Linked DNA regions of Homo sapiens: regions 2, 3 and 4 are each linked to region 1. The links come from fine-mapping of genetic effects on gene expression. A gene starts in region 1. Each other region holds a variant in brackets. All regions are shown on one strand. Distances are between the middles of the regions. Region 1 holds the start of PWWP2B (PWWP domain containing 2B). Region 2 overlaps LRRC27 (leucine rich repeat containing 27). Region 3 overlaps LINC03068 (long intergenic non-protein coding RNA 3068). Region 4 has its middle 23 kb from the start of LINC03068.

Region 1 (2,683 bases):
GAGGGGGTCCCTGCTGCCTGGCATTTTTCCTCCAAAGTCAGCCCCACCCCTGGAGGGGGCAGCTGCAGAGGCCTGTGGGCAGGACAGCAGGCAGGCTCCACTGCAAGCCTGGCAACCAGTGGGCAGGGGCTGGCTGACCCTGGAGAACGGGGCGCCTTGAGGTGCCTGAGGCCCCAGGAAGGGCTTAGTGTTGGCGGGAGCCCCAGGCCACACAGAGGAGGACAGACACTCACTGGGCTTCCAGGCCTCCTCTGGGACTGTCCCCGGCCAGAACTCTGGCTCATTCGGCCTCGGTCCCTACCCCTGTTCTAGCCGGACGGTCAGGTGTCCCAGGCCCCGCGGGCTCCCTCACTCCGCCCTGGCTCCTCTCTGAGGCTCCCACTGCCGCGCGGCCGCCGGAGGGCGAGGTCGACAGGCGCCAGCGACCCGACGGTCCCCAGTGGCACCAGGGGCGGTGGTCCTCAATTCCCAGGCTGGGAGGAGCCCTGCCCGGCGGCGCTGGGTCGCCAGGACAACTACGCGGTCCCCCGCCCCGCCTCCAGGCCTCGTCAGGCGCTGCAAGTCCGGCTCAGAAGCCCGGCCCGGGGCCAAGGTCACCGCAGCAGGCCGGGCCCCTGCGTTCTGAGCCGGGTGCGGACGTGCTGGTGCTCGGGGAAGTCGGGGGCTTTGACGCCTGAAGGCGCGGGAGCCGGGCGCCTGGGGGAAGGGGGTCCGGCGCCGTCACCTCCCACTCCTCGCCCGCGGGTCGGGGAGCCCCTGCCGCGGGGGAAGGAGGCTGTTTCCTTTGTAAACTGGCGGAGGCGCGCCTGGCCCCTGGGCCCGGCAACCCGAAGAGACACGCCCGAGACCTCCGGAGGGAGTTAACCCCCCGGGCCCCGGTGCCGGCCACCCCCAGGCGCGCAGGGTGGCCCTGAGCCGGGCGCGCGCCCGCTTGTCGCCCCGAGAGGCGCCGAGCCCAGTGGGGCGACCCAGTGTCCCGCCCCCCACGCGGCGAGGGCGACACTAGGCCGCTGCCCCCGGGCGCCCCGCGTCCCCTCCGCCTGCCCCGGCTTCCTGCGCGCGCCGCCCGGGACTTCCTCGCCGCAGTGCCCGGGGCCACCAGAGCCCAGCGCGGGGCGCTGCCGGGACACGCGGGCGGCCGACCCCAGGCGGGAGGATCCGGGCCACCGGGGAGGGAGGGAGGGCGCAGGGCTGGGCCCGGAGGGGGAGGGGGGCCCGGGACCGGCCCCAGGCAGGGGAGCGGGGGGATGGGGTCCCGGGGCTCCGGCCGCGGCGGGTGTCCCCCCCGCCGCCCCCGGGCTCGTGGCTCTCGGGTCCTCCCGAGCCAGGGGACACTCCCGGCCAGCGTGGGCCGCGAGCCCGGGCGCAGCCCCCTCTCCAGCCCGGGGGTCCGCACCGCGCGTCCGGCCGACCTCTGCGGGCGGGCGCGGCTTCTCCCGGGACGCGGCGGCGGCGGGCGGGGTCCCCGGGAGCGGAGCCCGCGGCCGCGCGCCCCCGGCCCGGCTCGGCTCGGCTGTGGCGGCCGCCCCAGCGGAGCTTTGTGACGTCAGGCGGCCGCGGGGCGGCGTCACGCGCGGGGCTGACCCGGCGGCGGCGGCGGCGGCGGCGGCGGCGGCGGGGCGGGGGCGGCCTGGGACGCGGCGGGAGCATGGAGCCGCGCGCCGGCTGCCGGCTGCCGGTGCGGGTGGAGCAGGTCGTCAACGGCGCGCTGGTGGTCACGGTGAGCTGCGGCGAGCGGAGCTTCGCGGGGATCCTGCTGGACTGCACGAAAAAGTGAGCGGGGGCGCGGGCCGGGACACCCCCGGGGTCCCCACGCGACACCCGCCTCCGCCGCCCGGAGACCCGGGACCCGCCTCCGGGTTGGGGGTGGCGTGGCCCCGGCGCCCGCTTTCGGTTTCTGCCGAGCCTGAGTTTCGGGGCGCGCGAGCGCGGCCGCCACTCGGGGGGGCAAAAGTGGTTCTCAAAGTCGTCGCGACTTTTCGGGGCGGGCGCCGGGCCGGGGCGGGCCGGGGCGGGGGGCGCGGGGCCGGGGTCCCGGAACTCCACACATCTGCCATAATTAATGCACTTTTCTTTGTTCAGAGCCACTGTTGAATTCGACTGTTGGCAGAATTGTCGTTAAAGCAGGGGAGGGTCAGATGCGCCGTGGCCTTGCCCTGGCAGTTCCTCACAGGTGGGGGTGCCCTGTCGAAGGCCACGGGCCCCTGGCTGCTGGGAGTGACTCCGCGGCTGAGGTTTGGATTCGGGGAGAGCAGTTGCGCCCAGCTGTGCGATTTAAGAACAGTTTCAGGCCAGGGAGCCCTGAGTCATGGGGGCGTGAAGAGGTACAAGCTGTGGGAGCCGTGGGCACATCCCCCGGGAGCCCTGGCTTCCTGGGTGGGGGGCGCAGGGCAGGGCGGGGCGGTTCCTCCTGAGAGGCACCTGTGCACGGGCTGCAGGGACCCATGCGGTGCAGATGAGCCTCCTGGACACCGCGTCACATGGCAGGGAGCTGTCGCTGCCAGATCAATGATTAGGCATGAATCAGGCTGTGGCCTCGCTGCGCTCCTGCAGGGCTTTCTTTTGAAACTGGGAGCAGGGAAAGGCTCCTCTTGTAAAGGCCCAACTTTTTCCATCCGTGGAGCCCAGATTTTTGCCTGGTGACATGAATTAGCAGAGAGGACCGTGTTCCTTCCACAATTAT
Region 2 (2,683 bases), 32 kb before region 1:
GCCTGCACCAGGCTCGCTGTGGCTCTCACTGAAAGCGCCTCACTGCACTCAGAGGCCAGAGCAGAAGAGACCGTGGGGCCTGAGCTTGGAAGGCCCAGGGCCTGGCCCCGGCCCTGCTGCTCAGCGTACGTCTGCCAGGGGGCTCCCCACTCAGTTTAACGTACCCTGGATCCCGGCTGCGATGTAAGAAACCTGGAGGAAGGGTGAGGTGGGATGAGATGTGGGTGACAAAGGGCATGTTCTGTTCCTGCAGAATTTGTTCCTCCTGGAGGCTGACAGTGTTTAGGGAAAATCTCGAAGGCCAACTAGGTTGTATTAACTCCCCAACCTCGTGAAAATGGCTTAGACTAAAACCATTTCGTCTCAAACATTTGAATGTTCTCTTACATCCTCCAGGGAGTTTACCTGCCATATTTGGCCTTTAAAAAGCCCACAGCAGACCACAGTGGCCCGCTAACCCCCCATCACCCTGGGCACAGTAAAAGCTGGAGTCTGAGGCGCTGACACAGGGCATGCCCTGACCTGAGGGCTCTGTTCTGTAGAACTCCAGAGGACATCATGCTTTCTTTTCCATAGTTACTCTGAAAAGCAAGCAAAACCGGCACAAACCCTGCTGCTGGGAGTAAGAGGGTCTTCGGAGAGGCTGAGTGAGACTGTGTGCCATTGTATTCACAGTGGCGCATGCACCCACGCCCGCACCAACACCCACACCACACCCATGACCACACCCACACTTAATCTACCTCCACACCCGCGCTTACACCCACCCACACTTACACCCACCCTTACATCTACCTCCACACCCGCGCTTACACCCACGCTTACATCTACCTCCACACCCACACTCACACCCACCCACACTTACACCCACCCACACTTACACCCACCCTTACATCTACCTCCACACTCGCACTTACACCCACACTTAAATCTACCTCCACACCCACACTTACACCCACGTCCACACCCTGGGGCCCCACACTCAGGCAGTCCGCGTCCACGCTTACATCTACCTCCACGCCCACACTTAACACCCACCCACACTTACATCTACCTGCACACCCACGCTTACACCCACGTCCACACCGTGGGGCCCCACACTCATGCAGTCCGCGTCCACACTTACATCTACCTCCACGCCCACACTTACACTCATGCTTACATCTACCTCCACGCCCACACTCACACCCACCCACACTTACACCCACCCTTACATCTACCTCCACGCCCACACCCTGGGGCCCCACACTCACGCAGACTGGAGTGGACCCCGCCACCCCACAGCTCACCTGCAGCAGATCCCCAGCTCTTTCTACCACCCTGAGTCATTGTCTTTAAAATTAAAGGAACCCCAAACCCCTGAGCCCCAGTGCTAACAGAAAATATGTTTAAAATCATAATTGAATACACTTTTCTGTTTGTCTGTTTAAGGATTTAGGAAAACCGTGTATTCCATGTGGGAACAGAAACCTGCTTTTCCCTTCATGTGGTGCAGTGTGCAGTGTCCTAAATGT[G/A]TCATATCTTAAATCAATTTGAGGTTTTTAAATAAGAATAGTGTGTGTTCTGGCAGCTTCTGAACTACTGAAGAAGGGATGGGAGAGGCAGCCCAGGCCCCCCGGCGTGAGTCTGGAGGAGAGTGGGTGCCGGGGAGGCCCAGGGCAGCGCCACAGTAACTGGCACAGCTGTGCGGGAGCCTCAGGACCGCTGTTTGGTCTGGGAAGAAAGGCACATGCTTTCTCCCTGGTTATGGCGGGAGTTGCTAGGATGAGAGTAAATGTGTCAAGTCATTTCCCTCTTTGCCCTTTGTTTCTCAGTGCCCTGCAGGAGAGAAATTTAGAAGAGAAGATAAAACAGCACGTCCTCCAAATGCGTGAGCAAAGAAGATTCCATGGCCAGGCCCCACTGGAGGAGATGAGGAAGGCTGCCGAGGATCTGGAAATTGTAAGGATTTCTTGGTTCTGTTTAAAAAAGTGTGGGGTGTTTTTTGTTTTGTTTTGTTTTTGTTTTTTTGAGACAGAGTCTTGTTCTGTCACCCAGGCTGGAGTGCGGTGGCACAATCTCGGCTCCCTGCAGCCTCCACCTCCCAGGTTCAAGCGATTCTCCTGCCTCAGCCTCCCGAGTAGCTGGGACAAGTGTACACCACCATGCCCGGCTAATTTTTGTATTTTTAATAGAGATAGGGTTTTGCCATGTTGGCCAGCCTTGTCTCGAACTCCTGGCCTCAAGTGATCCACCTGCCTTGGCCTCCCAAATTGCTGGGCCACTGTGCACAGCCTAAAACATTGTTTTATTAAAAATAAAGAGAACTCACTGTGCCTCTTCAGAGCATGCGCTCTCTAAAACCGTGGGACTGTGTGGAATGTGTCTTATGAGGTGTAGAAATTCCCAGAATTACAGTTGGTCACATGAGAAGGAAAACATTTCAGCCGAGGGGCTGAGCCCTCAAATGTGCCAGGCCACATGGCGGGCCTTGGCATCTCAGCACTGGGAATCTGATGGCAGGAGTGGCAGCCTGCTGACAGGGACTGGGAACCAGTCCTCTCCACATGTCTGTGGGGTCCTTGCTTGAGGTTTTGCACCCAGCTGATCCAGGCTGTGGGCCCAGGGCTGGGCCATGAGGGGCGTCACTGCAGAGAGGGGTCTGGCTGAGGCCACCGGACCATGGCTGACACGCTCGGTGTCT
Region 3 (2,683 bases), 39 kb after region 1:
CGGCGGCTTCTTGCTGTGTCCTCACCCAGTGGCAGGGACGGGAGGGTGGGGAAGGGCAACCAGGACCCTCAAAACTCTTATGAGGCTACTGGTCCCATTCATATCCTCCTCATCTCCCAAAGCCCACCAGTGATGCCATCGCCTTGGGGCTTAAGTTCTAACAAATGAATCTGGGGGTGACATCAACATTCAGACCATAGCAGCAGCTGTGATGGTTACTTTTGTGTCAGCTCGACCAGGCCACGGTCCCCAGCTATTTGGTCAAACACCAGTGTAGACGTCGCTGTGAGGGTGTTTCTTGGATGAGGTTAATATTTCAATCAGGAGACTTTGGGTAGAGCAGAGTACTGACCATATTATAGCCTCATCCAGGCAGTCCAAGGCCTTAAGAGAAAAAGACAGTTGTCCCCGAGGAAGAGGAAGTCCCGCCTCCGGACGGCGGCCCCTGGAGGAAGAGGAAGTCCCGCCTCCGGACAGCTTCCAAACATGAGCCGCAGCAGGAGTGTCCCTGGGTCTCCAGCGGCCCTCAGGTGTCAGATGAGCAGCTGCCACAAACACATAAGCCAATTCTTTAAAATAAATCTCTCTTGCACGCTCTCCCTATGTATATATTTACATTTTATATATATATACACACACTACATGTATACTACATATACACACTATGTATACACATACATACACTGTGTATAGAATATATAGGTATGCAATATGCACAGACCATATACACTATGCACACTGTATATAATCTCTATATATGTATACTATATATACACTATACATACACTGTATATATCTATATGCACACTATATTACACAAATATATGCATACTCTATATTAATGTACACTATATGCACACTATGTATACATATGCTATCTCTATAATATATACACATTATATGTGTACATACACTATATATACTCTGTATGCATGCTACATATACACTATACACACACAGTATAGTCCATATGCATACACTATATACACACACTATAACTTTACACACACACACTATATATACTCTATATGCACACACTGTATATATGCTGTATATGTGTGTACTATATGCACACTCACACTATGAATATTCTATATATGTACACAATATCAATATATACCCTATATGTACATGGTATATGCCCTATATGTCCACGGTATATGTCCTATATGCACATGGCATATGGCCTATATGTACACGGGATATACCCTATATGTACACAGCATATGCCCTATATGTATGTGCTATATGTCCTACACGTACACTGTATATACTCTACATGTACATAGTATATACCCTATATGATGTACATGGTATATACCCTATATGTACATTGTAGATACCCAATATGTACATGGTATATGACCTCTATGTACACGGGATATACCCTATATGTACACAGCATATGCCCTATATGTATGTGGTATATGTCCTACACGTACACTGTATATACTCTACATGTACATAGTATATACCCTATATGATGTACATGGTATATACGCTATATGTACATTGTAGATACCCAATATGTACATGGTATATGACCTCTATGTACACTGTATATACCCTATATGTACA[C/CACATCCCAA]TGTTTGTACACACATCCCAATGGTTCTGTTTCCCTGGAGAATCCTGCCTACCCCAGACACCGCTACGCCCCTCTGCCCACTGCCACAGCCTCCCTGCGTGCCCTCAGGCCCCTTCTCCACTGGATGTGGCCCATTGGCTGGGTGCCCCCAGGTGCCTTCTCCACTGGATGTGGCCCATTGGCTGGGTGCCCTCAGGCCCCTTCTCCACTGGATGGGGCCCATTGACTGGGTGCCCCAAGGTCCCTTCTCCACTGGATGTGGCCCATTGGCTGGGTGCCCTCAGGCCCCTTCTCCACTGGATGTGGCCCATTGACTGGGTGCCTCCAGGCACCTTCTCCACTGGATGTGGCCCATTGGCTGGGTGCCCTCAGGCCCCTTCTCCACTGGATGTGGCCCATTGACTGGGTGCCCCCAGGCCCCTTCTCCACTGGATGTGGCCCATTGGCTGAGTGCCCCCAGGCGCCTTCTCCACTGGATGTGGCCCATTGACTGGGTGCCCCCAGGCTCCTTCTCCACTGGATGTGGCCCATTGGCTGAGTGCCCCCAGGCCCCTTCTCCACTTGATGTGGCCCATTGGCTGAGTGCCCCCAGGCCCCTTCTCCACTGGATGTGGCCCATTGGCTGCGTGCCCCCAGGCCCCTTCACTGGATGTGGCCCATTGGCTGCGTGCCCCCAGGCCCCTTCTCCACTGGATGTGGCCCATTGACTGGGTGCCCACAGGTCCCTTCTCCACTGGATGTGGCCCATTGACTGGGTGCCCCCAGGTCCCTTCTCCACTGGATGTGGCCCATTGGCTGAAGTTTGGCATCCAGAGATTACAAGGCTCCTAGCTGGTGGGAGCCAAGGTGGTGGGGAGCAGGGAGGCAGGCTGCCAGATAAAACTCGGGATCCCCAGCTAAGATGAATTCAGATCAGCAATGTATCATTGCTTAGTATACGTCTGTCCCAAATTTGCATGGAGCACACGTATGCTGAAAATGGATTTGTTGTTCTAACTTTGATCTTTTGAATTTGCTAACCTGGGCCGCCCTAGGGAGGGGCACCCAGCCCGGTGGGGAGGGGCAGCTCTGTGCCCTGGGTGGCTCCAGCCCAGCCTTGTCTACA
Region 4 (2,683 bases), 25 kb after region 1:
GGGTAGACGCAGGGGTTGTCGTGGCCTGGCGTGGAAGAGCTGGGCTGGACGCAGTGGGTGGCGTGGCCTGGGGTGCTGCTCTCCAGCCTTCTTTCTCTTCTTCCTCTTCCTCTTGTTCTTCATCTTCCTCCTCTTGCTGCAGATCCTCCCCCAGGTGGCTCCATTTCTGCTGGTCCCATCTCCCGGAGGCCCTGCCCACAACCCCCTGCCCGCCATCTAGGGGGACCCTGGCGTGGTCCAGGAGAGGGAGTCAAGGCCTGTGTGGGGCTCCTGGGGCTGGAGTCCTGGTCTGCCTTCTGGGGACAGAGACTAGGTCGCCCTGGGCTCCAGCTCTGTGGCCTGGCTGTGTGGGCTGGGCCAGGGCCTCTGCGTCACCTCCTTGCCTGGGCTTCTCACAGTGCAAGCCCCGCAGCCTAGGCCCTGCTGGGTGGTGGTGGGATGGCTGGGGAGGGGCAAGAGCAGGTGAGGAGTCCTCACTGGGGGTGCATACTTTGCATTACAGCTGGGGAGGCTGAGACCCGGGGGGCCACAGCTGGTTCCTGGACTCCAAAGCCCAGGACCCTTCCAAATCCTGCCTGGACGGCACCGTGGCCAGGACCCCAGCCAGCACTTCCCTTTTCTGCGAGGGTTTTCTGTTTCTTTGATTATAAAATAACCCCTGTTGGTGGGGGGAAAAAATTAGCAAAATAAAGAAAAGCAAAAAAAAAAAAGAAAATTAGAATCTCCCGCAGTCTCACACCCTGTGGGCCTTTTGCGTATTTCTTCCCGGGTGAGTTTTCTGGGCATTAACAGATGTTTGCTCTGCAGACCTGGCCTTGTGTCACCCTGGAACTCTGTGCCCAGCTCACCCTTCCGTGGCTTCCTGTGGCCGGGGGCTCCCTCCCCTTCCTGCCCCAGGTCTGAGGTGCCAACGGCTGCCTGTGGCCAGGGGCATCTCCCCGTGGACACTGAGGGAGGAGCCGCGGCAGGGCTGGGCTCTCCCGCTGGGCTCCCTGCACCCTGCGGCCCCGGCCCCAGCCCCACCCCCAGCCATGGGAAGGGTGCACTCCGGAGAGGCCGACGCAGATGGGGCCCTGCCCCTGGCCTGAGCGTGGCCGTCATCTGCTCAGGAGGGTTAAGCTCCTTTGTGCCCCAAGGAGCTTCAAGCCGATCAATACCCGGCTGGAAGTAGGGGGCTGCAGCTGGGGGGGCCCCACCGCCCTGACCCCAGATGGACTTCCTGCTCCCTGCCCAGCTTCTCTGCGGGGGGAGGTCAGGTCAGTGGGCCTCCTGCTTGGCCTTTGGGGCCACCGCCCCTGGGCTCCAGCTGAGGCTGTCCCAGGGCCGGTCTCCCTTCCCGCCCCCACCCTACAGAGGCGGCCTCACCAGCCAGCCTCTGCCCCAGCAGAGTTATTTTTAGCCCCAGCCCCGCCTGCTGCTACCACGGGCCTTTTCTCCGCAGAGAGAGGCGGGTGAGGCCTGAGGGCCTCACCCAGGGCAGCCAGTT[C/T]CCCAACCACGAAGGGAGGCAGGAGAGCTTCCCTGTGCGGGCAGGCGTCGCTGACCCTCCAAGGGGCAGAGCAGTGGGGGCTTCCTTCCTTCCTGGGTGTGGCTGGGGGGAGGGGGCTGAAGGCCTGGAGCCGGAGGGGCTTGCCCTAGAGCCCCATAGCCAGGCAGGGGTCAGTGTCCACAGCTGGAGGGGCTGGAGAGGTGAGAGAGATGGTCCCAAGGGAGCTGGGAGGCCCAGGAGTGGGCCCAGTGCTCAACCCGCTGCCAGGCAGGGACAAGACCTGAGAGATGAGAGGGCGGCGGGGGTGACCCTCGGAGGGCAGAGGGCGCCAGGACGGAGAGATGAACGGGGCAGTGGGGTGACCCATGGAGACCCACAGAGAGCAGAGGGGCACCAGGATGGGGAGACGGAGGCCAGTGGGGGCTGAGGGGTCCCGGGGGAGGACTGTAAGGAGCCACATAGTGGCTGCGGTCGGCGTGGCTGGGAGACAGGGGTCCAGGAAGCCCACTGGAAGCTGCCGCCCCGGCTGTAGCTGCAGGGCTCTCTGTGGGAGCCGGGAGCTGGGTGCAGAGCTGCGTCGAGGCTGCCTGAGGCCTGGCAGCCCAGCAGGAGGGGACTTACCCCCACCCCCCCACGGAGGAGAAGGCTCTGGGGCCTGCTGGGTGCAGACGCAGCTGGGATCTGCTTTGGGGAAGAAAACCTAGGCAGGTCACCGAGGCTCTGCCCAAGCCAACGCCTGTCACCTGTCACCGAGGTGTGGGTGTCTGTCCTCCTCCCAGCCGTCCATCCCCCTCCCTCCTGGCCCCGCTCCAGCCCGCAGCCCCCATGGGAGCCCGAGAGAGGACAGTCTCAGCAGGTGGCACAGACAGATGCGGACTCCTCACTGCAGGTCACAAGGCATGTTTTCAGAGACCAGCTGCGGTGAAGATCATCCAGCCCTTGGGCCCCTGATCCGTTTGGATACAGTTTCAAGCATGAATTTCTCCTTTGGTGGTTTGCTACAAAGAGAAGAGTTCTCATGATTTCTTTGGGGTGTTCATCCTATGATTTTGGGGTGAGGATTCGTGACAGAGACAAGCAACAGGAGTCCAGGAAGCCCTCGGGGGAGACGGGAAACAAGTCTTTTTGAAAAAACAGCTTTCTTTGAGACGTAGCTCACATATCATATGATCCCTCCCCTTCCAGTGGACACGTCCA

The links. PIP is the estimated chance that this variant, and not a neighbour inherited with it, causes the effect.
Region 2: its variant is fine-mapped to the expression of PWWP2B in whole blood (TOPMed, PIP above 0.99). The same link has a PIP of 0.9 or more in lung, prostate, skeletal muscle and transverse colon.
Region 3: its variant is fine-mapped to the expression of PWWP2B in whole blood (INTERVAL, PIP 0.92).
Region 4: its variant is fine-mapped to the expression of PWWP2B in blood mononuclear cells (TOPMed, PIP 0.96).

What each region holds. Positions count from the first base shown.
Region 1 is chr10:132,395,579-132,398,261 of GRCh38, forward strand. PWWP2B (PWWP domain containing 2B) reads left to right here and starts at 1,622. Exons shown (of 3, transcript NM_138499.4): 1 at 1,622-1,773. The coding sequence starts at 1,649. It overlaps LOC124902526 (a long non-coding RNA gene), which reads right to left and starts at 978. Exons shown (of 2, transcript XR_007062342.1): 1 at 1-978. RefSeq lists enhancers at 1-63, 64-586, 2,157-2,679, 2,680-2,683 and silencers at 395-774, 795-1,224, 1,635-1,744, 1,755-1,894.
Region 2 is chr10:132,363,610-132,366,292 of GRCh38, forward strand. LRRC27 (leucine rich repeat containing 27) reads left to right here. Exons shown (of 11, transcript NM_030626.3): 10 at 1,815-1,941. Among named protein-coding and RNA genes, the nearest start is that of PWWP2B, 32 kb to the right of the region's middle. The variant G/A (reference allele first, on the strand shown) is at 1,515.
Region 3 is chr10:132,434,147-132,436,829 of GRCh38, forward strand. LINC03068 (long intergenic non-protein coding RNA 3068) reads right to left here. Exons shown (of 3, transcript NR_184030.1): 3 at 1-545. Among named protein-coding and RNA genes, the nearest start is that of LINC03068, 9.5 kb to the right of the region's middle. The variant C/CACATCCCAA (reference allele first, on the strand shown) is at 1,579.
Region 4 is chr10:132,420,256-132,422,938 of GRCh38, forward strand. No RefSeq gene overlaps it. Among named protein-coding and RNA genes, the nearest start is that of LINC03068, 23 kb to the right of the region's middle. RefSeq lists silencers at 997-1,046, 1,077-1,136, 1,167-1,226 and an enhancer at 1,684-2,587. The variant C/T (reference allele first, on the strand shown) is at 1,487.